Linked DNA regions of Homo sapiens: regions 2, 3, 4 and 5 are each linked to region 1. Evidence: fine-mapped QTL for protein levels in blood plasma. A gene starts in region 1. Each other region holds a variant in brackets. All regions are shown on one strand. Distances are from middle to middle. Region 1 holds the start of CA12 (carbonic anhydrase 12). Region 2 overlaps CA12 (carbonic anhydrase 12). Region 3 overlaps CA12 (carbonic anhydrase 12). Region 4 overlaps HERC1 (HECT and RLD domain containing E3 ubiquitin protein ligase family member 1). Region 5 has its middle 36 kb from the start of APH1B.

Evidence for each region. PIP is the chance, under the fine-mapping model, that this variant and not a neighbour inherited with it causes the effect. Protein levels are from antibody-based Olink assays in UK Biobank. Linkage for the fine-mapping came from a reference panel and not from the study's own genotypes, which makes the PIPs less certain.
Region 2: its variant is fine-mapped to the plasma level of the CA12 protein (UK Biobank, PIP above 0.99).
Region 3: its variant is fine-mapped to the plasma level of the CA12 protein (UK Biobank, PIP above 0.99).
Region 4: its variant is fine-mapped to the plasma level of the CA12 protein (UK Biobank, PIP above 0.99).
Region 5: its variant is fine-mapped to the plasma level of the CA12 protein (UK Biobank, PIP above 0.99).

What each region holds. Positions count from the first base shown.
Region 1 is chr15:63,378,708-63,383,811 of GRCh38, forward strand. It overlaps CA12 (carbonic anhydrase 12), which reads right to left and starts at 3,139. Exons shown (of 11, transcript NM_001218.5): 1 at 2,929-3,139. The coding sequence starts at 3,013. RefSeq lists enhancers at 2,823-3,343, 3,344-3,863.
Region 2 is chr15:63,336,110-63,341,213 of GRCh38, forward strand. CA12 (carbonic anhydrase 12) reads right to left here. Exons shown (of 11, transcript NM_001218.5): 6 at 4,611-4,674; 7 at 4,179-4,336; 8 at 2,710-2,836. The region is part of intron 1 of LOC124903506 (a long non-coding RNA gene); the gene reads left to right. Among named protein-coding and RNA genes, the nearest start is that of CA12, 43 kb to the right of the region's middle. RefSeq lists an enhancer at 2,120-3,016. The variant C/T (reference allele first, on the strand shown) is at 2,861.
Region 3 is chr15:63,321,482-63,326,585 of GRCh38, forward strand. It overlaps CA12 (carbonic anhydrase 12), which reads right to left. Exons shown (of 11, transcript NM_001218.5): 11 at 1-4,876. The coding sequence ends at 4,804. The region is part of intron 1 of LOC124903506 (a long non-coding RNA gene); the gene reads left to right. It overlaps LOC124903505 (a long non-coding RNA gene), which reads left to right. Exons shown (of 2, transcript XR_007064675.1): 2 at 1-915. Among named protein-coding and RNA genes, the nearest start is that of APH1B, 46 kb to the left of the region's middle. The variant C/T (reference allele first, on the strand shown) is at 2,084.
Region 4 is chr15:63,752,462-63,757,565 of GRCh38, forward strand. HERC1 (HECT and RLD domain containing E3 ubiquitin protein ligase family member 1) reads right to left here. Exons shown (of 78, transcript NM_003922.4): 5 at 3,976-4,287; 6 at 2,768-2,864; 7 at 2,044-2,187; 8 at 497-624. Among named protein-coding and RNA genes, the nearest start is that of HERC1, 79 kb to the right of the region's middle. The variant GAC/G (reference allele first, on the strand shown) is at 2,669.
Region 5 is chr15:63,311,283-63,316,386 of GRCh38, forward strand. No RefSeq gene overlaps it. Among named protein-coding and RNA genes, the nearest start is that of APH1B, 36 kb to the left of the region's middle. The variant A/C (reference allele first, on the strand shown) is at 2,473.

The DNA.
Region 1 (5,104 bases):
TAAGATGTAATCCCAGACCTTAGAGATATAATAAGCCAGATCATTACCTCTTAGCAGGCAGAACAGTTGGAGGCCCAGGATGTAAAATTCCACAAATAACAGAGGAGTTCACCCTTACTTTTCCCCTGAGGAGGCACAGGCCACTCCAGTGATCCTGGAGGCCACTAGAAACACATCTGCTGCCTGAGCACTGCTGCCTTGCCAGCAGTTTGCATTGTACCTGCTCACATTCAAATCATAGCCTTATACCCTACATCTTCTGCTACCCTCCCAGGGCTCGCTAATCAAGGTTTTCCCTGTTGTTGGAGTTCTCATCCTCAGATGAGGCCTCAGCATCACACTCTGGAAAGCTCAGGGCTAAAAGTCATAGAGTGGACATCTGGGACTGTGAGGTCGCGGTGGTGACATAGGACTGGGGACTTGTTGAAAGGCAGCAGCCTCCAGAGCAACATTCCCTGCCCTCCTCTCTGTGAGTGAGCTGGCTTGGGACTCCAGACTCGGCACTTTGGGTATAAATGGCAGTGTCTGGAGGGGCTCAGGAGCTGGAGGGCTGGGGAGAAGCGGCGTTGTAAGTGAGGATGGTGAGTCAAGGGGGTTCATCGGGTGAGGATCAGGGCCCCAGCTCAGCTCTGACCTCAGGAAGTCTCTCTAAAAGTGTGTGTATGTGTGCGTGTGTGTGTGTGCACGCGCACGAAAGTGTGCTTTATTCAGGAATTGCACCCCCTGGTTCCCCACTTCTAGCTGTAAGAACAGAAGGCTTAAAAGGATTAAACTGATTCCACAAGCGAGGCCAGGCCAAGGCCTCAGTGGCATCCTGAGGGAGCAGGCCCTTCCTGGAGGGGAATAGTTTCCTTCCCAAGGAAGGTTATCTGTTCCATCTGGGAAACCTGGGAGGCTCAGCCTGAAACCTGTTAGAACCTGCAGACCCAGCTGGTACTGGGCAGGGAGGTTCCCCTGGAGGGAATGCCCAGAGAAAATGGTATTTACCAAGATCCATATCAGAGGTCCTGGGCCCTGCCTGCTTCCTGTGCTGGGTGCTAGAACTTTCCCTGAGTAACCATCTCCTGGGTAGCCCAAGACTGCCTGGCTCTCCACACCAGGTTTGGGCAGGGCAAGCTCTGCAGAATTCACTGAAATGCCCCCCAAAGCCACGGCAACTAAGAATTCCAAGGGTTTCTCCAGAAGACACTTGACTTCACATTATTATGCTCCCTCCTGGGCCCCTGACATTGTTCTTGAACATTCTCCAATGCTGGAAGTTTAAATGCACCAGGCAGAGAGCAGATCACACTTTGACCCCATTACTCAGCTTAACTCCTCTCCACCTCCAACTTTGGGTTCATGCTGACATTCTACACCTCAGTGATTTTTGCTTTGACCTGTCCTCTAAGGCAGTTAAAAACCCAAGGAAACTGCATGAGAATTTACAGAATAAAAGCTGTGCTCTACCCAGGGGTAGGCAGTCTCCTTCCTCAGAGTGAGGCGAAAGTGGAGTTTTGACTACAAACTTCCCCAGTCCCAACTTGGAGAATTGGGAGAGGAGATAAGGAGGAGGGAAAGGGAGAGGGAAGAGGAAGAGCAGGGAAAGTAGGGAAGAAAGGAAGGGGAGGGAGGGAAGAGAACAGGGAAGGGCAGGAAAAGAGAGAGAAGGGAGGCAGAGCTGCCCCAGAGTGAGAGGAGCAACCAGCTATAGGAAAGAGGGCCAACTAATGGCTGTTTCTCCCTTTGGTCTTGGAGCAACTTAGGACTAAAGAGATTTCCAGGGAAACTTTGGTCTCAGTGCAGCTTTCGTAAAAGGAAACATGTAAAGTTTGTGGTTTTAAAACTTGATTTTCACTTTTACATCGCTCCTTTCTCCCAACTTCTGTTACATCGCTTCTGTTTCTCCCTGACCAGATGAGGGAGATAATATCAAGCACATCATGCCAGCTAGTTGACTGGAATTTAATTAAGAGTTATCCACAGCCTGGCTCCCCTGCCCTTCCCCATGGGCACTGTGACCTCCAAGAGAGGAGGCTCAGAGCTTTTATGCTGCTGAGCAGGACACATTTCCCACCACCACTGCCTCGCCAGGAAGAATCTAGTTTCAGCCAGTAAAATCACTTTCGGTCCAAAATCACTTTCTTATTCCAAAAGATTAATGAACCAGCCTTGGCTGTACACGTGTTAGCTCACTGGCCCGGCGTGAGCCCACAGTTCAGGTCCCCTCTGCCACCTCCTCCTGTCACTCCACGGAGCCTCCATTCAGTCCCTCAGCCTCCAGCCTTTTGGGATTTAGTGTTCTAATTACAATCAGAAATATGCTGTGTGTGTGTGTGTGTGTGTGTGTGTGGTTTGTGTGCGTGCGCGCGTGCGTGTGTGTGTGTACGTGCACACACACGTACATTCAGCATAGTAGAGCCCTCCTGGAGAAAAACAATGATTAAGAATGGGATGCATCATCCCTTTGACTTGTAGGTAAGACTTAATGGTAAAGATCCTCTCCTCCAAAGAAAAGCGCCTACCACTGTCTGCGGGTTCTGCACAGGGGCACAGCAAACCTTTCTCTGTGCTTACCCCAATCAGAATGCCACAGTCATGTCTCTACTTTCTAAACGTGGATCAGGGGAACGCTGTTTTAAATCTTGGCTTTGCATCTCCTCCCTGGTTAGCAAGTTCCCAAGCCACATCTTCAGAGCTGGCGGTGCCCGGGAGTACACGCAAACATTTTAACACCAAATCTGCGCCAAGCGCCACTAGAAAGCAACGTGCTTCCCGACCCAACCTCAGCAAAGGAAAACGGAGCATCCTTTCTTGAGAATCTACTATTTGGTACTACACCTTCCCTGCTCCCCGCAGCAATGATTTTACTTTATCATTGAAGAGCCTTCAGCCCAGGGGCGGCTGAGCGCTCAGGAGTGTTAGGAAAGAAGCAGGCGGAAACTTTACCGTTCACTGGGGCCGGGCTGGAAGGCTGTTCCTTTAAGATCACCAGCAGGAGCACGGCCGCCGCGTGCAGGCTGCGCCGGGGCATCTTCGCGGGCTCCTGCGGGGCGGGCGCGGGCTGTGCCGGGGGCTCCCGGTGGCCGCTCGCTCTCCAGCTGCACACCGGGACCGCGTGCGCGCAGCCTGGGTGCCGTGGCGAGTACGTCCGCCCTTCGCTCTCCTGGCTTCCCCGGGCAGCTTTTATGGAGCAACTCAACGCCAAACACTTGATGTCATCGTGCGGGGAGGGGGTGGGGGAGGAGAACGCCCTGCCCACCGGAGGGCTGGCGCCCCAGATCCTAGGTGAGTTGTAGCCTTGACTTCAGCAGCACTCTGCGGGTCCCCGGCGCTCCTCTGGGCCAGGGCTGACCCAGGAACACAGTTCTCCGAGGAGCTGCTGGCAGGCGTGGGTGAGATCCGCCTGTCTCACATCCAGAAGGGTGCGTCTAGGGATTCCTTCAGTGGCATGCCCTTGGTCTGTCACTGGTCCTGTAACAGCCCAACGAGTTCACCTTGCCCGCTGCTTAGACAGAGCCCATTTATCAAGACAGGGGAGTTGCAATGGAGAAAGTAATTCACGCAGAGCTTGCCGTGCCGGAGACCGGAGGTTTTCGTTCCTTTGTTTGTTTGTTTGAGACGGAGTCTCGCTCTGTTGCCCAGGCCGGAGTGCAATAGCGTGATCTCGGCTCACTGCAACCTCCGCCTCCCGGGTTCAAGCGATTCTCCTGCCTCAGCCTCCCGAGTAGCTGGGATTACAGGCACATGCCACCATGCCCAGATAATTTTTGTATTTTTAGTAGAGGCGGGGTTTCGCCAGTTTAAGGCTGGCCTTAAACTCCCGACCTCAGATAATTCACCTGCCTTGGCTTCCCAAAGTGCTGGGATTACAGGCGCCCACCACCACACCCGGCTAATTTTTCTAATTTTAGTAGAGACGGGGTTTCACCATGTTGGCCAGGCTGGTCTGGAACTCCTGACCTCAAATGATCCACCTACCTTGGCCTCCTAAAGTACTGGGATTCCAGTACTCAAATCAGTCTCCCCAAGCATTCCGGGAGTTGTTTGTTTGTTTGTTTGTTCAGACGGAGTCTCCCTCTGTCGCCCAGGCTGAAATGCAGTGGCATGGTCTTGGCTCACTGCAACCTCTGCCTCACGGGTTCAAGCGATTCTCCTGCCTCAGCCTCCTGGGTAGCTGGGATTACAGGCACGCGCCGCCACACCCAGCTAATTTTTGTATTTTTAGTAGAGACGGGGTTTCACCATGTTGGCCAGGCTGGTCTTGATCTCTTGATCTCGTGATCCACCTAAAGTGCTGGGATTACAGGCGTTGAACCACTGCACCCTGCCTCTGGGAGTTTTTAAAGATAATTTGGCAGATAGGGGCTTGGGACTTGGGGAGTGCTGATTGGTCAGGTTGCAGATGGGATCACAGGGGGGTTGAAGTAACGTTTTCTTGCAGTCTTCTGTTCCTGGGTGGGATCGCAGAACTGGTTGAGCCAGATCACACACGGTCTGAGTGGTGTCAGCTGATCCATCCAGTGCAGGGTCTGCAAAATAGGATGTTAGATTTTACAATAGCGATGTTATCCCCAGCAGCAACTTGGGAAGGTTCAGACTCTTGCAGCCTGACGCCGCAGGACCCCTAAACCATAATTTCTAATGTTGTAACTAATAGATTAATCGTACAAAGGCAGACTGGCACCCAGGCAAGAAGGGGGTCTTTTCGGGAAAGGGCTATTATTGATTTTGTTTCTGAGTCAAACCATAAACTGAATTCCTTTCTAAGGTTAGTTTGGCCTATGCCCAGGAATGAATAAGGACAGCATGAAAGTTAGAAGAAAGACTGAGTCATTTAGGTCTGATCTTTGTCACTGCCATAATTTCCTCAGTTATAATTTTTGCAAAGGCTGTTTCAGCCCTACTCAGAATCCCCCAAGTATAGTGCCATTTGGGCAAAAGCCTCCTTCATGCTTTTTTTTTTTTTTCTTCAGGTGCCTGCCTGGACTTAGCACAGGTTAAGGAACTGGACAAGATAGTTACATTCACATGAGTTTCTGCCAATTGTTCAGTGCATCCTGATTAAGTTCTTACCTTCCAAGTTGAGATGCAAAGAGATGAACTGAGAATAGGAGAACAGCAC
Region 2 (5,104 bases), 43 kb before region 1:
CAGCTCTGGGCAAACCGTGGAGGAAGAGCAGTGGCAACGCTGCATTTGGGCTTTGATCTTGACGTCCTAAGCTGGGAGATGGTCTCCAGACTTCTGCTTAGAGGCCCCTCAAGCTCCCCTATCCAGACTGGGAGAATCTACTGAAGCGCTTGGCTAAAAACCTGCCTACGCTGCCCCACTACAAGCAGCTGCTTAGACACAAGCCGGTCTAAGAAGATGGCTAATTATCCCCAATGCCATAGTCCATCGTTACAAGCGGGGGTTACTTTTGGATGTCAGAGTCAAGCTCCTGCCCGGTTTCTTCTGATCCTCTGTAACTGCCCTCAAACACTGTCCCTGCAATGTAAAGTCAGGATTGGCAGTTGTTAGTGTCCACTTAACCATCACAACATATTAGCACCGAAAGGACATGAGATCACCTAATCCAACCTGGCTTTTTTTTTTTTTTTTTTTTTTTTTGAGACAGAGTCTCACTCTGTCACCCAGGCTGGAGTGCAGTGGCATGATCTTGGCTCACTGCAACCTCCACCTCCCGGGTTCAAGCGATTCTCCTGCCTCAGCTTCCTGAGTAGCTGGGATTACCTGGCATTTTGTGGCTGAGGAAACCAAGGCCTGAAGAAGGGACACGATTTGTCCACAGCCTGCAGCCAGGAGGAAGCAAAGCCAGGCCTTGAACCTAGGCCTCCTGACTGTAAGGAGAATATGTGCCACCCCTTCCCTGGGTGTGCATAGGTGAGCTCAGAGAACAGAGCCGGCAATGGGGTCCTGGGATCGCGAGCAAAATTCTATCTGATCTATGTGGGCAAAGTTCCTAATCTCCTGGCAGAGTTTTTATGTTTTTGGTTTTAAGAGTTGAAGTAGTTCCATTTAACCCTTGGATACTACATTCTCCACTTAGAAGAATGAGAAAAGACAGCGTTGTATCCATAACAGATACATTCCATGCACTCAGTTCATTTCCTAGAAAAGAAACTGTTAGTTATCATCACATGGATTTTGAATTTTCAGGAAGGCTACTGTTCACAGATTCTGTTTTCCAACTGAGAAACTGAGGAAAGAGGGAAATGATCTTAATTAGTTGTACCTGGAGAGGAGAAAACACAAAAGACAAATTCTTGGGCAGTTCTTCATGAAAAGACAGAGAATGATGTAATCCTGACCGTAAGGATGGGTCAGTTTCTAAAGCTTCCTGGAAAGGGCCTTCAAATACAGTCTCCATATGTTCAACTAAGTTTAGGAGGTGATCGTTATAACCTCATATAATAAGAAAGGAACCCAAAAAAGTGCACCAGGTGAGACGAGGAGAGCAGATTCTGACAAGTGGGTTAACGGGTTTCTTTTGTTTTTGTTTTTTGGTTTTTTTTTGAGACGGAGTCTCGCCCTGTCACCCAGGCTAGAGTGCAGTGGTGTGATCTCGGCTCATTGCAACCTCTGCCTCCTGGGTTCAAGCGATTCTCCTGCCTCAGCCTCTTGAGTAGCTGGGATTACAGGCATGTGCCACCACGCCCGGCTAATTTTTGTATTTTTAGTAGAGACGTGGTTTCACCATGTTGGTCCGGCTGGTCTCGAAATCCTGACCTCATGATCCACCCACCTCGGCCTCCCAAAGGAGGCAAGACACCGTGCCCGGCTAATTTTTGTATTTTTAGTAGAGATGGGGTTTCACCATGTTGGTCAGGCTGGACTTGAACTCCTGACCTCAGGTGATCCGCTTGCCTTGGCCTCCCAAAGTGCTGGGATTGCAGGTGAGAACGGGTTATCTTTAAATATGAACGCCAGGCCCGGTTTGGTCCACACGTGATGCTGGGGATGAAATGGAACTGCACAGACCAGCCATGAAGATTCCCAAGCTGGGAAGCAGTCGAGAATCTACAGTAAGAAAGTGAGCTTGAAAGTGAACTCAGAGGTCTGAAGAGGGGTGTGGGCCCCAAAAGTGCTCCCTCACCCCTTTCCCCTGATGCCCAGTTTCCAGCAGTGTTGATGTAGGCACTGAGCAAGGAAAACGGTTAATGTTCTACTGGGGAGTTATTGGTTACAGCTGTGAAAGGGAGACCCGAGCCCTTGTAGCATTAGGAAGAAACCAAGCTATTAAGTTTTGTTCAATTGGGAACTTATGTGCTTGTGCTTATGCAAGCTCCAAGGAGGTTAGACAAAAATGCAGTGCACAAGGGTGCTTCCTTGCCTAACAGGCCCTGCTACATTAGACATGGTTGTGGGTTACACTCACTGTTTTACATCTAACATAGGAACATTCTTGCTCATTTGGTGGTGGTGCATGAATCACCTGGCCAGGCCTAAGATAGGCTGGCTGCAGCCTTTGATGCCAAGAAAGCCTAGGGAGGGAAGTTAGAAGTCTGATCTCATGGAAAGGGTCCTATCCTGTGTCTTAGAGAAGGGATCATTGTCTGGAACAGAGAAGTCCCCAGGGAATTCTCTCTTACCCATCTGTGCAAGACTCCCAGGCTTAAAGAGTGCTCTGGTCCATGTGCCTGGGGGCCTCGGCTTTTTGCTTCTCTGCAAAGACTCACTGAAGGGGGGACCCCAGTGAGCCCCACACCTAGTCTCACAAGGCGCCTGGTTCCCGTGGCAGCCAGGGAGCTCTCAGCCAACTTCTTGAGGGCATCAGTGCCAGAGCTGCATTCACAGAAGATCCCAATGTCTTGGCACCACACTCCCGCACCCCCTCCCCCCAGCACTGCCTCTCCTCACCTTGGGAGAAGGAGGTGTATACCAGCCTCTCATCGAACTTCTGGACCTGCCGGAAGTTGTTGATCATTTCTCTGGGGGAAGGGTCGTCCATGTGTGTGCAGTACAGGGCTGTCTCCAAAGCCAGCAGCTGAGGGCAAGAGCAGAAATAGCC[C/T]GCAGGCAGAATGACCTCCTCACCTGATCCCCTGGGAAGAGGCTAGCTCTCCGCTCTTGCACCTGGGAGAAGCCTCTGGAACCAGCTTCTGTGGGGCCGGGTGGGAGATATTAGAAAGCAGAGGGAAAGCCACAGAACTGCTTCCCTCCACAGTGGGTGAGTGGGAGCTGGGCAGCGCTGGGTTTATCTTCCCAGCACCCGAGACTTCAGGGAAAGGCAGTGCTGTTAGTTTCCAATTATACCTGGAATCTGCCCTGCGTGGAGGGAAACCTGGGGTGATGGAGTGCTCCTTAACCTCCACAGAGACTGAGTTCCTCTCATGAACTTAAATTAGAGGCCAGCTCTCAACCAGAGGGTCGCAGGGCTTGTTCTGATGGTCATATCAGAAGGAATAAAGGAGGGAGTTAAGAGTTTCACAGGCCATCTGATTGCGGGTTCCATGGCATTTTCATGCACCTGCATAGATTATATAACCCTTTCCCAAGGCAGTTTCTGAGGTAGGATGTTGCTGCTTCCCCACATGTTTCATCCATCTCTTGGTTCATCATGTCCTCATTCCTGTCCACCCACCTGCTGCCATTTACCAGGTGACTCAGAGCAGAAGCTTACTGTAAAGAGGAGCAGCTGTGAGGCTGCCCTGGACGCATGAAGCTGGCGTGGGGCTGTGAGCCAGGGTGTAGTGCTGGCCCCAGCCCCGTCTCCTGGGGAGCCATTTTTCTTCTCATGAATTTAGGCTGTGGAGGACAGGTATGAGCAGTGACATGGAACTCAGATGACCTAACTTTGGGTCTCAGCTTTGTCACTAACCCGCGGGTGATCCCACAGACTTCTACTCTTCTCTCTCATCTCCTATCAAATAAGAAGCTTTAGAGGTGATGGCTAAGGATTTTGTTCCCCAGTTTGCACTAGACCTTGAGCTTCTTGGGGGCAGGGACCCTCACTTAGTCATTGCTGCAATCCCATCTCTTAAATGATTTCATCTGATCCTGTCTTTATTCTGCCCTGTAAAGGAACCAGGCTCTCTCCTGCCTGGGAAGTGAATACCACCCAGCCACTGAGGATATATTAGCAAATGCAGATTTAGAGCTCTTTTTTTTAAAAAAGAACTAGGAGACATCTATTCATTTGCCTAGCTTGACTTCTTTTGAAGCTCAGCCTGGAATTTCTGCGGTGCTTTCAGACACCTGTGATATTTGGAGAGGTTTTGAAGAGCTGCCAATGAAACTAAATGAGGAAATCAAGTCATTGATTGTGATATGGAGGATGATGGGGACTGAGGTGCCGCGTGGACTCTGGCTGAGTCTGGCACGACAGTTACCTGCTCCTGGGAAATTTGCACGGGGTTTCGGAAAACTGTCCAGAGCACAGTGGGGTTGCAAGGGGGTGTGGTCAGGGACCCCCGGTAGCGGTAATATTCAGCGGTCCTCTCCGGAAGCAGCTCTTCAATGTTGAATCCCGGGACGAATGCTTCCTGGCCTAGAGAGACATGTTGCAGAGGTGATAGTGTCAGCCTCCCTCCGTAGGGCATAAGTGCAGCTGAACAGAGCGACTGAGCCTAGAAACATGAACTAGCCCCTTTCAGGGTCATCTAACCCCAGGACCTGGTTGCAACATTGTTCAACAACCTGCTGCTCTTAACCTGGTGAACACAGACAGCACCTGCCCCTTGTGTTTGCTTTTCTTAAAGTCACACAGGGCTGACTACCTCCTTCTCCAGCAGAGAGTGAATATGCATGCAAGGACCCCTCACCTTTGTACTTTACATGTTGAAGGTGACTGAAGATCTTGTCATAGGACGGATTGAAGGAGCCCATCTGCAACAGAGACAGGGCAGGTTAAACTGGGACAGAACAGGATAGGCTGAGCCAGGATTGACGATTGCTATCAGAAGGGCAAAGCTGTGGGTATGTTGCCACCACTGCCTGAAGGATCCACTTTACTGGACAATTATGATGGATCACTAGGCTCTTGGGAGTTAGTGTAATGGTCCTGCCTCTTGCATCTCAGGACGTCCTGTTTTCAGCTTAAGGAGTTGGGCTTGAATGTCCTGGGGCATAGGGTACCGTGTGTGCTCTTGATGATCCAGATATGAGCCTGAAGGCTTTGACTAACATCCATGTCACACAGAACTTAAGGAGCTCTGAGTTCACAAAAGCCACGTCAGACAAATGAGCATGTTGGGAAATGAGGTACATACAGCCTCATTAGGAAAAAAAAACATGCAAGCCAATCAGAAGACATTCC
Region 3 (5,104 bases), 57 kb before region 1:
GGGGACACCCTCGGTGGCATTGTCGGGCCACATACCTTTCCCCTCACATCCTGCGACAGCTGAATCCGAGCCCGAGGACCACGTGCGGGGCGGTCTCCAGTGTGGATGGCAGCCCGGCTGGAACGCACTGGCAGGTGGTCCCTGTGCCCCAGAGGCCCCGTTTCCTTCCGGAAGCGAGGCTGCAACTGCTCCAGATACCCAGCAGGAAGGCCACGTGACAACGGGAGGGGCACTCCTGTGTGTGTAGGGGCGAGGGGGTGGCGGTGCCAGGGTCCTGCAGTTCACCAGGTGCCCACGTGCCTGCCACCCGAGCGCCATTCACTCCCGACCGCGGGGACCTGGGGCACAGCCGGGCCCACTGCGGCGAGGCGAGGAGATGTGGGGAGAGGAAGAGCGGCGTCCACGATGTGCTCATTTAGGCTTGATTTTCCTCCTGCCCTCCTGTCTCCCTCCCTGGCTTCACCCACAAGGCTTTCTTCTCGGGCTGATTTCTGTGGGAGCTCTCTAGGCAGAACCCTCAGTCTCTGAAAGTCGGGTTCGTCGTCCGGGTCTGCGCAGGGCATGGATCTTGAGCGCTTGGAATGTGACTTAACTGAGAAACGCTACTTTATTTTAATAAGTTTACATCTAAAAGCCGATCATTGATTCCATTATTTGGAAAACAACTTCTAAGTGTGTTTGGAGCAACTCGGATATTGGAATCTTTTAAACTGTAAATTTTATGAAATCTAAATAACGACCAAATATCTACAAGGAAAATCTAGCATCTGAATCGAGTGTGCTGTCAGTGTAAAACACACACCAGATTTCAAAGATTTACTGCAGAAAAAAACACATGAAAATACTGGTTACATGTGGAAATGATAGTATTTTAGATCTGTTGGATTATCTAAAATTAAATTTAAATTAATGTCACTGGTTTTTTTTTTTTTACCTTTTTCTAGTGTGGCTACCGGAAAGTTTAAATTTCATACGTGTCTCATGTTATATTTTATTACATTTCTCTCGGCCTGTGTGCTCTAGATGGTTGATTTGGCTGGATTGAGATGAGGTGATGGCCATCCTAAAGGAGGGCCTGAGTTCCCTCTGCCGACCTATGGCTCTCACTGCTATGCCTCCCTGATCATTCAGCCAGTGGATGTGGAATTCAGGGAGATGAGAGATGCTCATTTCCTGCTCCAGGAGTGCTCTCCCCAGTGGGGTGGGAGCAAGTCCAAGGAGTGAGTGCTTCGTGGGAACTCTGGCTTCCCGGCTGTCTTCATGCCTGTGCGTGGCCATGACACCTGGCAGGATGCCAGAGCAGGGAGAGCAGAAGCATCCTGTGTTCTAGCAGAGTACAGACCATCAGAAATGTTTCAATTCCAAAGCTGGGCCAGGTACTGTCACCCACTGGAGCCAAAGTACCCTTGAACAGTTCACCTCTCTCAGGCTTAGGGTGATTATAGTGAAAATTGGATGCTTTTCTAAATAAGGCAAACAATGATGGTACCTATTTTATAACCTTTACTGGACTGCCTCTTTTTGCCCCAGTCAGAATGTGAAGTCTGGATTTAGACAAAAGATTATTTGGACGGGTGATAGTATGTTTTGCAAAAAGAATTCAAAATAAGGTAACAGGCAACCAAGAGGGGCTGCCCACCTACTAGGTTTAATACTCTCAGGAGTAAAGAGACATAGGACCTGTTCCCTGTATCATGTCCCCTTGGTTGGGAACACCTCCCTCTTTTCCATCCATCTGTTCAAATCTGAGCTATTTGTTCAAGGTGCAGCTCCGATCCCACCTCCTCCAGGGTCTTTATTTAATTCCTCTAGGCTTCCCAGCACCATTAAGCAGCTTCGCGACCTGCAGCCACACATGCCATAGGCCTCCATCCTCAGGAAAGTGATTGAGTCTATCAGCTTATTTTCCTTTGGAGCCAGGTTCTAAGAAGTGGATGCGAGTGACATTATTATTCTGATTAGTTACCTATCCCCATAACAGGGAGCTACAGAGTGCTTTGCAAATAGTAATGCTTTAACCTCGCCTCCAAAAAAAAAAAAAGAACAGCCTGATGTGAAAAACATTTATAATTTCTTGTAGTTA[C/T]AGTGTGTATCTTCATTATAATCATTCTTACAATAAATACAGAAGTGCTAAACAGACCATTATCACAGTGGCCTGTGGGCTGAGGCACAGGAACTGAGGGGTGCTGCAGACACCAGTGCTTCTCCAGGGCTGGCCAGGACACCTTCAGAGAGGCTAGTGAAGAGGAGAGGAATGTAGGGTGAATTTGAAATGTGATTAATAGAGTCAATGCAGCACATGCTAGAAACAGATACAGAGTTTTTTGTTGTTTTTTAACTATTTTACCAGATGATACTAACTAAACAAACAGAACAAAGAAAGAGATTCAAGATCTCACATGAGTGAGAATCCAGGGCCTTCCCCTCTGGCCCTGGCCCCAGCCTGGGCCTTGTTTTTGCTATTTCCACCTAGGCATCTGCCATGCAGCAGAGTTAGGAGCGTGTGGGCGGCTGCTGAGACTCACACACCACAGTACTGGCATCCTTCAGGGGCAGCTGGCATCAGTGGAATGAGTGCGGATCCGAAGAAAGGTTTCCCAGTTCCAAAGCTGGACCCACAGGAATCCTGTGAGGATTTGCAAAGACATTGATAGTGTTGGTTCTTGGAGCATCTTTCTGCCTCCCGGGCTTTGTCTGGTCTCAGCCTCGGGGCTGCAATCCAGGGCTGTGCTGAGCAGCAAGAGGAGAGGAGAAATGCCACTGTCTTGCACCTCCCAGTAAGTCTCCCTTTTCATGAACAGCCCTTGTGCCAGGTACAATGGTCTCTCTGTTCTCTCACAAAACTCATCCACAAAAGATATACAGAGTCTTTTGACAGACAGTCCCACTGCTCTGGAGTCCTTTATGTTCATTTCTGATTGACAATTTTGGACCAAGGCCAAGAGGCCCCCTAATTCATGTTGCTTCGTCATGAGGGTTGTCCTTGTCATCTGATGATGCATGAGGCATGCTAATGGCAAGGCCGGGATGCCACCCCAGGCTTCGAGGCTGTTAGAGGTCTTGAGTGCACACACACACACAAACACACAGAGAGACACACACACATTTGAGCTCCCATTAGGTCACTTGTAACTTTGCCTAGCAAAACAGGCTCCCAAGACATAAGGCTTGCCATCGTTGTGAAAAGTTGTGATGGTACAGAATAATTTTTTTTTTTTTTTTTTTGAGATGGAGTCTCGCTCTGTCACCCAGGCTAGAGTGCAGTGGCATGACCTTGGCTTACTGCAACCTCCGCCTCCTGGGTTCAAGCGATTCCAGAAGAGAGAATTCTTAGAGTCAGAGGGAGGAGTAGAAGGAAAAAGATATTTAAAAAGCTATGCTTCAAGAGGACATTTCATGCTGTCAAAATGAGACTGTGAATCAGAAAGTTCTCGGGGAACTGCAAGGTGCTCTCAACTAGGGGTCGGTTCCTTCTCAGTCATGGCACTGACTCATCTCCACAGGGTTCTCACCTGCGGGAGGAAAATGGAGGAGTTGCGCCTGTCAGAAACTGTCTGTGTGATTCGGGGAAGAATATGGAGTATCTTAGTAGCATTCCATTATTACTTGCCCCTAAATACATGATGCCAGCCCCCTGCACAGATAACCTCCTGCTTTTATAGCTTGAAATATATTTGATCTAAACCACGATTTGACATCTTCAGAGAGAGAGAAGTAGATAAAAGTCTCCATTCCAGGTTGGCAGTAGGGATCCTGCAGAAGTGGCTGAAATGAAATTTGGCCTACAGAGAATAAGTTCTACAGTCATTTTGTTTCTGCCTATTTCCTCCAGATTCAAAGGCAGATTGGGTCATCTCGGAACTCATGTCTCCTCCAGGACACAGCAACAACACATTTTCAAGGAACAGCCTCATTATTTGTAAAATCTGTAGAGTATAAAACATAACTGCTCCACTGACAGGAGGTTGGATTTGGACTTAATATTGTATTATTCTGTCCTTACATTATGGCTTGATAAACAGAATGTGATTCCAATTCTGATTCCAAAGTGAGACTCTCCCAGATCATCCATGTCTTCTCATTCTCTTTGTCCCTCTAGCTCTCTCTCCCTTCTCATCCCCACCAAGAAGTGGAACTTGAACCTGCCATTCCCTAAGGTCTGTGCAGTGTCTGTGATCCAGAGGACAGGACTGTGAAAGTGTCCCTAATATATCACAATGTATATCTCTTGTTTTCTTTTTCTCTCTACAACTTGATCCTTCCTGTCCCCATTTGTCCCCGAGTTGTAAGGTGCAGATTAAAGGTTTTGTCATAGCAGAAGGAAATCAGAGGGAGATGCCCCGTCTCCAGAGGAAAGAAGTTGAGTTTCCCAAGCAAAACCTAAGCAGAGAGTGCACATTCTTGTCTGAAAGCTTGGAGAAGCAGCAGAATTTCCAGGACACTTGAAAGCACGCTCTGGCAAAGCCCCGGATGAAAGTGTTTTCCAACCATTAATGGCCCACCAGCATGGCTTGGTTTGTGATTCCAGAATTCAGACCACTTCACAATCTCACACAGTTACAGCAAGCAGCTTTGAATTCCTGCTGCTTGGTCTGAGAGTGCATCCCATCCATCGATCGGATGGCTCTGGGGTGGCCATGGTCCCAAGGCAAGGAGGCACCCAGCAGAGGATCCCTGAGGCCTGGCATGTTTGCAGATTGAGCTACAGAGAACACCTTGAGGTGTCGCAAGTGTCCAGAGAGCCGAAGTGTGTAGGGTCCAAAGCAAGGTCCTTCCTGGATGTGCCCGGGAGCTCCGGGGACCTCAAGCGTGGGCCTCAGTCTCCATCTTGGTGGCTGGCTTGTAAATGACTCCCTTGTTATCACCTTTTTTGATACTAGAACAGAAAGAACACATAACTCTTGTTAGAGAGGAGAGCGAGCGAGCCAGAGAGCAGCCTGACTCAGGTATGGAATGAGGCCGTTTTTAAAAGTTGGATTCCTCTCTTTGGGACCTTTCCCCAATTCTGTTGGTCTTGGGAGGGAGTGTCACCAAATAAAGCTTTAACAAAAACAGAACTTGTTCGTTTTCCAACTGTTCTCTTTCACACCTAACAGTAGTAGAC
Region 4 (5,104 bases), 370 kb after region 1:
CAAAGCTTATGAGCCTTTATAAAGGCTCATAAAATTCTGACTATCCTAAGCTTGACTTCACACTGTTTCTCAGAAACACCTAACTCTCTCAGAATATTTTCCATACCTAAGTGTTCTCTTTACCCTCCTTTTTGATCACCCTCTTGCCTTCTTAGTTCATATCACTGGCTCCATCAAGATCTAGTTCAGCTTTCCCCGACTATCCATAATGTTTTAGAAAAGGTTTAAGGGAAGCTAAATGCTAAAACATTTTAGAAAGTCAGTTTAATACAAAGAACAGAGGCTCCACTAAGATTTATCTGGGTCACATATGCCAGGTTAGAAAACCTGGTTCCTTCTCAGATACTCTACTTCAAACAGAAGAAGATATTTCATTTTAGCATGTTGCCTAAAAATGTATTTATTTGAACTTTAAAATTTAAATACAAGTATTACTTTTTAGTCACCTAATCCTCTGAAATACTCTAAGTCTTTTATACTCATCCCTTAGTCCTACCTGCCCTGTTGATGTCAAAGCAAGTGAAGACTGGCTCCCAGCACAAACTTTGCGAATGAACATTCCTTGTAAAGCTTCAATAACTTTAGGTTTATACACTCTGTTGGTATCACCATGACCAAGTTTACCTATAAAAACAAACACATTAAACAATTTACTTGTTTTAAAGAACCTCTACTCTTTTTAACACTACTAAAGTTGATAAGGAGCTCTAATGTTTCCATCACTAACCTGGCAGATATGAAAAGCTATGTTTCTGATAGCTGAGGATGTTAACAAACGAGCATTTTTATTACAAGAAAGTTAACAACCACTGATAGCCTTTTATATCTTAATTTCAAGCAATTAAAATCAAGCAATTTAAAATCACTTTAAAAGAAACATAGACAATTATTTTTCTGTCTTTCTCCCCCTTTAATGGCTATATTTCTAACTTCAAATTTGCTGACAAAATATACAGGTACTATATGCGTATAATTTTTCATAAACTTTAAAAAAGAATGTATATGCATATAATTTTTCATAAACTTTTTAAAAAATCAATAGCTCATGAAATTGAAAACTGGACAAATCATTAAAGAAGAAAAACAAATGGCCAATCATCTACAAATCCAACCACACCAGGAATAAAAAAAAGTATAAATTAAATGATACCATTTTCACTATTGAAATTATTTAATTAAATTTAATACATGCTGTTGTTGAAGACTATGGGGAAGTAAGCATTCACACTGCTAGTAGGAGTGACTAATTAAAGTAGACATAGATTTAGTCATTCATTGTGTTGTTAATACTGAAAAAAATTGAAACCATCTAGATACTCAACAATAAGAAACTGGTTTTATAAATTGTGCCACCATCAAATAAAAGAACACTTCAAGCCATTTAAAAGAATGATGTAGAGTCATGCTTGTTGATATAAAAAAGATACTCATGCCGGGCACGGAGGTTCATGCCTGTAATACAAGCACTTTGGGAGACTAAATCTGGCAGATCACTTGAGCCCAGAAGTTCGAGGCCAGCCTGGGCAATAAAGCAAAATCCTGTCTCTAAAAAAAATACAAAACTTAGTCAGGCATGGTGGTGCATGCCTGTAGTCCCAGCTACTTGGGGGGCTGAGGCAGGAGGATCGCTTGAGCCCAGGAGGTTGAGGCTGCAGTGAGCCAGGTTTGCATCACTGCACTCTAGCCTGGGTAACAAAGCAAGACCCTATCTCAAAAAAAAAAAAACTATTAGAGTAAAACATATATATGTCAAAACATATATAAACTTATATAAAACATACACATGTAGGTATACTTTGGTTTTTAAAAACACATCTAAGTAGAAATATATGTAAATATTTGTATAAATGTGTATTTATTTAGAAGTCTATTTCCAAAATGTTAACAATGGTTAAAGTAACATTTGTAAAAGCTCAGTTCATTTTTTAATTTCTGCTCATCTGTATTTGAGTCATTCTACACTAGGCATATATAACTGAAAAATAAATTTTTAAAAAACTCAAGAAAAAAGCCAAAGCTACTGATAAATAATTTTTTACATACCATTGTCTCCTCCTCCAAAAGACCATACAGTTCTCCCATCTTTAGACAGAGCAATAGTATGTGAACTGCCACAAGAAACCTCTCCTACATTGCTGATGTCTTTTACTAATGTTGGAATGTTACGACTATTGCTGTCACCATGACCTTGGATAAAACACACACAACAACAAAGAAACAACATTAACTCTTTTTCTCTAGGCCTTGACTTCACAAGTATAATAAATGTTACAACTTTAAAATAGAATTGAGATTTTTTTAATGCAATGCAATATGAAAAACACAATCATTTCTAACATCTTCTCAATCTTCCAAGGTGCTCCTAAACTGGGTCATAGAGTCACTTCGGTGAACCATTAGAATATTCTTTTCATGCTCCCCTCACAGCACTTACCTTGTGTTGTCCTGTTTCATGCTCATGTTGACTTGTTTTCATTACCCACTAGATTATAAACTTCAGGATCATGATGGTATTGCTTTTATCCCAGAAACCCTACAATGCCTGGTCATAATAGGGCACACTCAGTAAATGCTTGCTAGATTTAATTACATTTAAATATCAGCACTAAAATCTAGGTCTTATCTATATAAAATTATCTTCCTCTGAGCTTAAACTAACAAAATAAAT[GAC/G]AGTCTTTGGCCTAGTAAATCTGCTCTCACGGCTTCTCAGTAACTTAATCATTTCTAATTTTCTAGAAGAATAACTTACATTTTTAAAAAATCTTACCTAATCTTCCAAAGTCTCCTTCACCCCATGTGTATAATTCCCCATCCTCTGTGACAGCAGCACTATGTCTGTATCCAGCTGACACACAAACAACTACCTGCATTGCACACAAGTAAATACGATGAGTATGCACATGTTAAAACATATAGTCCGTATTTGATCCTATACACAGAGACTTCACAGATACTAATATTCACAACCCATCCAGGAATTTCCAGGTACAGTTGTGGAGGCTGTGTTCAGGCCAAGGATGACTGGCTAAGAGTTCAAGTAAGTGCTGAAATACATGCCTGTAATCCCAGCACTTTGGCAGGCCAAGGCAGGCAGATTGTTTGAGCTCAGGAGTTCGAGTTCAGCCTGGGCAACATGGCAAAACCCTGTTTCTTTTAAAAAATATGAAAATTAGCCAGGCATGGTGGCGCATGTCTATAGTCCCAGCTACTCAGAAAGCTGAGTTGGGAGGACCACCTGAGCCCCAGGAAATCAAAGATGCAGTGGGCTGAGATAGCACCACTGCACTCCGGCCTGGGTGACAAAGTAAGAACCTAACAAAAAAAGAAAGAAAGAAAAGAGAGGAAGAGAGAGGAGGGGAGATTAATAAAAAGAGAAGATATGAGCTCAGTTTCTTATGGTTCCAATTATTTGTGTGGGTCCTTGGCAATTACTTAGGTACTCTAAATGCCTCCCCATTCAGGTCTCTATTAAGATGCCACCTCTCCTAAGAGCACTCTCTGACCTACCTCATTACCTAATACCACACCTGCCCAAGGTAACCTTTATTGCTCATTTTTTTCTTTAATATTATCTGAAATTATTCTATATGCTTGTTAACTTATTATCTCTATCCTGAAGACTAAAGGATTAAAGTAGAGACCTTATCTGTCTTGTTCACTGCTACAAGTCTAATGCCTAAAATACTGCCTGACACTTCAAAAGTGCTAAATGTTTGTTAAATGAATGACTCTCAGTTTGCTTATCTGTGAAATAGGGATAATAACTACCTTACAAGAATAATTATAAGAATATAAGAATTAAAATTCAATAATGTATACAAAGGTGTTCTGTAAACTGTAAAGCAGAGATACAAAAGATTAAGCCAAAGGGTTGAAGGGGCAACTGCAGAAAGAACACATCAAAATCTGAACGACATTGTCAATTACAACTCCAATGCATCTAATTATTTTTATAACCAAAAAGAATGCACATACCTTTCCTTGTAGAGGTCCCTGAATAAGCTTGGGATATTTCTGTGTTGAACTATTTCCATGCCCCAGTTTCCCATAATCACCATCTCCCCAACTGAAGACTTCTCCTTCTGTCGTAAAGGCTAAAGTGTGACCATCAGATCCTTTAGAAGATGAAACCTTTTTAATGGATCTGTGAGGCTCGAATGTTAACTTTTTTAAAGTTGACTGATTATTGGAGTCTCCAAGGCCCAGTCTCCCATAGCTGCCTTTCCCGCAAGCTCTAACAGAGCCATCCGTAGAAATGACAAAAGTGCAGTACTGTCCAGCTTCAATCTATAAACAAAGAATCATAAATATAAAATACTTCTGTGAGTATCAAAGTATAATATTTAAGGCTGGTTTTATCAAAGAGCCTCAAAGGAAGTCTTTTAGCAGGATACGGCATGATTCTCCAGAGAGATTAAGGAATATACAGAAATCTAAGAGAACACGAATGGCCTTTTCATGCTCACAACTTTGTTGCTGAGTTCAAATTCTTCATGTATATGTTATCTTTCCAGGTTATTGTCCAGGTTATGATTGAATGAAACAACAAAGTAAAACGCTTAATATCCTCTTATAACTGAGAATGGCAAGACATAAAGTTTTCCTTCCTATAAATTCCTTAGGGTACATTATGGCAAGAACCATATAAAATGTATTCTAAACCTATTTGAAAAAAAAATACATTTTAATGAAAGTAATAATCAAATAGAAAGTTCTAGCTGGGCTACAAATGTAAAAAAAAAAGTGATCATAAGAAAATGAAATGCTAATCTAGCAAAAAGAAATTCCAGTTTTTATTTACTTTTTTTTTTTTTTTTTTTTGAGACAGAGTCTCGCTCTGTCACCTGGGCTAGAGTGCAGTGGTGCAATTTTGTTTCACTATAACCTCCACTTACCAGGTTCAAGCAATTCCTGCCTCAGCCCCCTGAGTACATGAGATTATAGGCACGCGCCATCATGCCCGGCTAATTTTTGTAAATAATTTTAGTAGAGACGGGGTTTCACCATGTTGGTCAAGCTAGTCTCGAACTCATGATCTCAAACGATCCACCCGCCTTGGCCTCCCAAAGTGCTGGGATTACAGGTGTGAGCCACCATACCAGGC
Region 5 (5,104 bases), 67 kb before region 1:
TAAGGAAAAATATTCAAAATCAATGACCTAAGCCTCTACTTAAGAAACTCGATAAAGAAGAGCAAACTAAAGCTAATATAAGGAGAAGAAATGAAATCATAAAAGAACAGGAACCAAATAAATAGCAGTAAAACAATGGGGAAAAATGAAACAAAAATCTGGTTCTTTGAAAAAAACCAATAAAGCTGGTAAAGCTCTGGCCAGATGGAAAAAAGAGAAGGCACAAGTATCAGTAATGACAGGAGACGTCACTATAGGCCCTACATTATTAAATTAATAAAGGATAGTATGGATAACTTTAATGCCAATAAATTTTAAAACGTAAATGGACAAATTCCTTTTTTAAAAAAACCCACAAAATTCACTCGAGAGGCCGAGGTGGGTGGATCACCTGAGGTCAGGAGTTTGAAACCAGCCTGGCCAACATAGTGAAACCCCATCTCTACTAAAAATACAAAAAATAAACCAGGCGTGGTGATGGGCACCTGTAATCCCAGCTACTTGGGAGGTTGAGGCAGAAGAATCACTTGAACCCAGAAGGCGGAGGTTGCGGTGAGCTGAGATAACACCATTGCACTGCAGCCTGGGCAACAAGAGTGAAACTCCGTCTCAAAAAAAAAAAAAAAAAAAGAAAAGAAAATCTGCATATCCTTCTATGTCTGCAGACTTTGTTTTTTCTTGCCTCTTAATATGCCTTGTAATTATTTGTTGAAAGCTAGACATCGCCTCTTGGGTAATAGGAACTGAATTTTAAAAGCCTTGAGTGTAAATTTTATGTTAATCTAGGTAGGAGTTGGATTATATTTAATGTTTGCTGTGGCTGTTAGTGCCAGAGGCTTCGAATTCCTCTGGTGGTCTTGTTTTTGTCTCCCCTTTTGACTGTGGAGTTCCCTCAGTGCCCCTTTTCAGAGAAAGCCTGTGTCTTGCAACTCGTTCAGCTGTAATCCACTGTAAATTAACACTAGAGCCCTGTTGGTATGGCAGTGCGATGTGGAGGAGGGGACATGTATAATAATAAAATTATAATAATAAAATCTAAATCTCAGTATTTTCATGGGCCTGAATCCCTGGGCTGAGAGTTTCTTAACTTTTTCCCCCTTAGATAAGACAGGAAGCTAGAAGGTGGCTGGAGAAGAAAGGTAACTTTCCCCAGCTGGGTTACGGCTTTGGTAAAGTCTTTTTCCTTGGAGAGAGGCTTTTGTTGTGGAAAACACTCTGGATGTATTTTACAATGAAGACAGTATTTCTCACCCTTACACTAGTCCATACTCAGACTCCAGCAATTTGTCAACATTAGCATTTAAGTGTTACTACCAGTTTATGGCTCCAGCAGCTTGCACTCCAGGTAAGCAAATCTCAGCTGTGACTCTGGATTCACCTCTCTCTCCAGATTTTGGAGTGGTGGTTTACCCTGAGACCTCAGTTCTCTGATGGGTTCAAAAGAATTGTTGATTTTTCCATTTGCTTAGCTTTTTCTTGTAAGGATGGGAGTGATGGCTTCCAAGCTCTTTATATGTTAGAGCTAACTGGACATCCTCTGTATCTATTAAATACGTTGAATTTGTAGTTTTTATAAAGAAAACAATTATTAAAATGTACATGTTTATAGGCAATATAGAATCACTATTACACATAACTTTTTGTTCTGTAACAACTAAACAAAATGTCATGATTGAAATTTCAATTCTCCATATTAAATGGCTATATACACACTATGAAAGAATACCTGGTATGCCAATATTTAAATTTTTTGATAATTTATCAAAGGGATAACTGAACTTGTGTCCTGTTAATTTACCTAATCTAGATCGGATTGATAACAGTGCCACTCGCAGGGAATAAAGTTGTGTGAAATGTTTCTGTTTATCCTACTAGATACCAACATATATCACAAATCTGCACTCATGGATATGAATGTAGAGTTTCAGAACAGGCCCGGGTATATATGGGAATTTCATTTATGGTAAAATTGGCATTTTAAGTCAGTGGGGAAAGCATATGTTATTCAATAAATGGGTCTGTTTGATCATTTATTTGATTATATTTGGGAAAAAAAAGCAAAGCTAAGTTTTTACTTTCACTTATTTAAACATATTAAAGATTCAAATGCAAAAAATAAAACCATAAAAGAATCTTTTAAAATTAGAATAGTTTTATAGTCTAAAGGAGGAGAGCTTTTCTCTACATTTCACTTAGGCTACAAACTACAAAGAGGAAAGAAAACAGATTTGACTACATACAACTTTAAAACTGCAGTGCAAAAGACATTCTAAACAAAGAAGACGGGGAGAAATATTTTTGACATATATAGAATTGTCACCTATAATATATAAAAAGCTTCTATAATTAAAAAAATTAATGATACAGTAAAAAGAGATCAAAGCATATAAACAGATAATTCACAGAAAAAATGCAAACAGTCAATAAACATAAAACAAAATGCTAAACCACGAATAATAAAAGCAAAACAAG[A/C]AAATAATTTTGGACTATCAGATTATCAAGGGTGAAAAGGATTGATAATAACAAGGATTGTTGAGCATATGGTAGAAACGACATATTATGAAAAAGGATATTAGTACAACCCTCGGGTGGTAATTTAGCAGAATCTGTTACATTTATGCAGTTTTGAGATGTGCATATTTTGAACCAGCAAATTCCTCTTCTAGGAATTTGTCCCATAGAAATGGTGTGTCAGAGGAAAAAGACCACAAACTCACAGTTTTTTCTATTCTCTGAACAAGCAAGCAATCAGTTCTGCTGCAGACACCGGCTGGGTGTCCTCTAATTCAATTCCAACACTGTCTGCCTGGAGATAGCATCAGATCCCACAGGTTCAGGGCTCAGTCCCCAAAACCACGCTCCCTTCAGACACCAGTTGCATATCCAGGCCTCCTGAACTTCAGACTGACCAACTTCAAGTTGGGGTTCCCACAACCCTGCTTTGGGGTTCAATTAATTTGCTGGAGTGGCTCACAGAACTCAGGGAAACACATTTGCTGGTTTATTATAAAGTGTATTATAAAGGATACAGATGCAGAGATTCATAAGGCGAGGTGTGGTGGAAGCGAGATACAGATGCAGAGATTCATAAGGCGAGGTGTGGTGGAAGCGACACAGAGCTTTCATGTCCTCTCTGGTGTGCCACCCTCCAAGAACCTCCACACGGTCCACTATTGAGAAGCTTCCCAAACTCTGTCCTCTTGAATCTTTTATGGAGACTTCATTACATAGGCATGATTGATTAAACCTTTGGCCATTGGCTGTCAACTTAATCTTGAGCCTCCTCTCCTTCCGAGAGGTTAGGGGTAGTAATCAAAGACCCAACCCTGTAATCCTGCCATGGGCTTTCTGGAGACCAGCCCCATCCTGAAGCTGCCTAGGGACTGCTAGCTTTCAGTCAGTCATCATGTACAAAAAGACATCTCTTTGGAGATTCTAAGGTTTTAGGAATTGTTTGCCAGGAAACAGAGATGAAGATCAAATATATATTTCACAGTATCACAGAAATACATCCAAGTACACATGGATCTTGTAATAGTCTTGTAACAGTAAGGAATTTGCAGCAAGTGCCTATCAATAGGGCATTGCATCAAGCAGCAGGACATTGTATAGCCACTGAAAAGAATGAGGATATCCAGGATGTGCTAGAAAACAAAAGCAAGAATAAAAGATAATTCTTTCATCCAACAAGTATTTCTTATGCCAGACATTGTGCTAGATACTGAAAATTTAAGAATGAAAATAGGCATGATGCTGGGCCTTGTACAGCATATAATATAGAATCCTATTAATACATTTTATTAAAAATTTAAAAATGAGTATAAAAATACATATGAATATACATAATGTCTGGAAAATAAATTGTTAGCTAAAGATAATTGTTTAGCCTAACACTAAATTGTTAAAAGTGACTATTTTGGGAGCTAGGATTATGGGGGGACTTTCTGCTTTATACACAATTATTTGCATTTTTCAAAAAAATAGGCATGCATTATTTATGTAATCAGACAAAACCATAATCTAAGCACTTTCATGATTTCTCTTTGTCCTTGGTAGAAAGTGGATATTATTCAAGGTCTTTTGTAATCTGATCCCAACCACTTTTTTCTGTCTCCCACCTGTAAACCAAAGAAAAAGACCGAGGCAAGCCTCAATTGAGAGGTTTATTTTGTCAAGGTCGAGGATGCACCTAGGAAAAAGGAACACAAATCACAGGAAGTCTGTGATCCATGCTTTTTCCAAAGAGGGTTTTAGGACTTCAATATTTAAAGGGAAAGAAGAGACCATAGGGGAAAGAGGAAAGAAAGAAAAGGGAGGAGGGGGGCTGGGCACAGTCACGCCCGCAATCCCAGCACTTTGGGAGGCCGAGGCGGGCAGATCACGAGGTCAGGAGATCGAGACCATCCTGGCTAATAACGGTGAAAGCCCATCTCTACTAAAAATACAAAAAATTAGCTGGGCGTGGTGGGCACGCACCTGTAGTCCCAGCTACTCGGGAGGCTGAGGCAGGAGAATCGCTTGAACCCGGGAAGTGGAGGTTGCAGTGAGCCGAGATCGCACCACTGCACTCTAGCCTGAGTGACAGAGTGAGACTCCATCTCAAAAAAAAAAAAAAAAAAAAAAAAAAAAAAGGAAAGTAGATAAAAAAGGCAAGAGGTTACATTATCTCAAGACTTTGATTAGGCTTTGATTCGTGCTCACTAAGTCTGCATTTTACTCATGAAAGGAGGGGGTAGAGGAACAGTCAATTATGCATTCATCTTGTGCTCCGAGAATCTGCATTTTTCTGTAAGATAAACACCGAGTAGAGGAAGCAGTCAAATATGCATTTGTCTCAGGTGAGTGAAGGGATGACTTCTGTCTTTCTCCCATACCTGTGAAGATATGCTGTTAATTTACATTGTCGGGGGAAATCCAACAGAATTGTTTCAGGGTAAATATCTTGGGGCCTACAAGGAATTTCCTTGTAAGCAAATTATGTGGAGGGGGGCTCTTCCTGGGGAGGGACTTGGCCCTCTATTTTTGCAGCTAGCTATTTAGAAACAAAATGGAAGGCAGTTTTTGCATGACTCAGTTCCCAAACTGAACTTTTCCCTTTGGCACA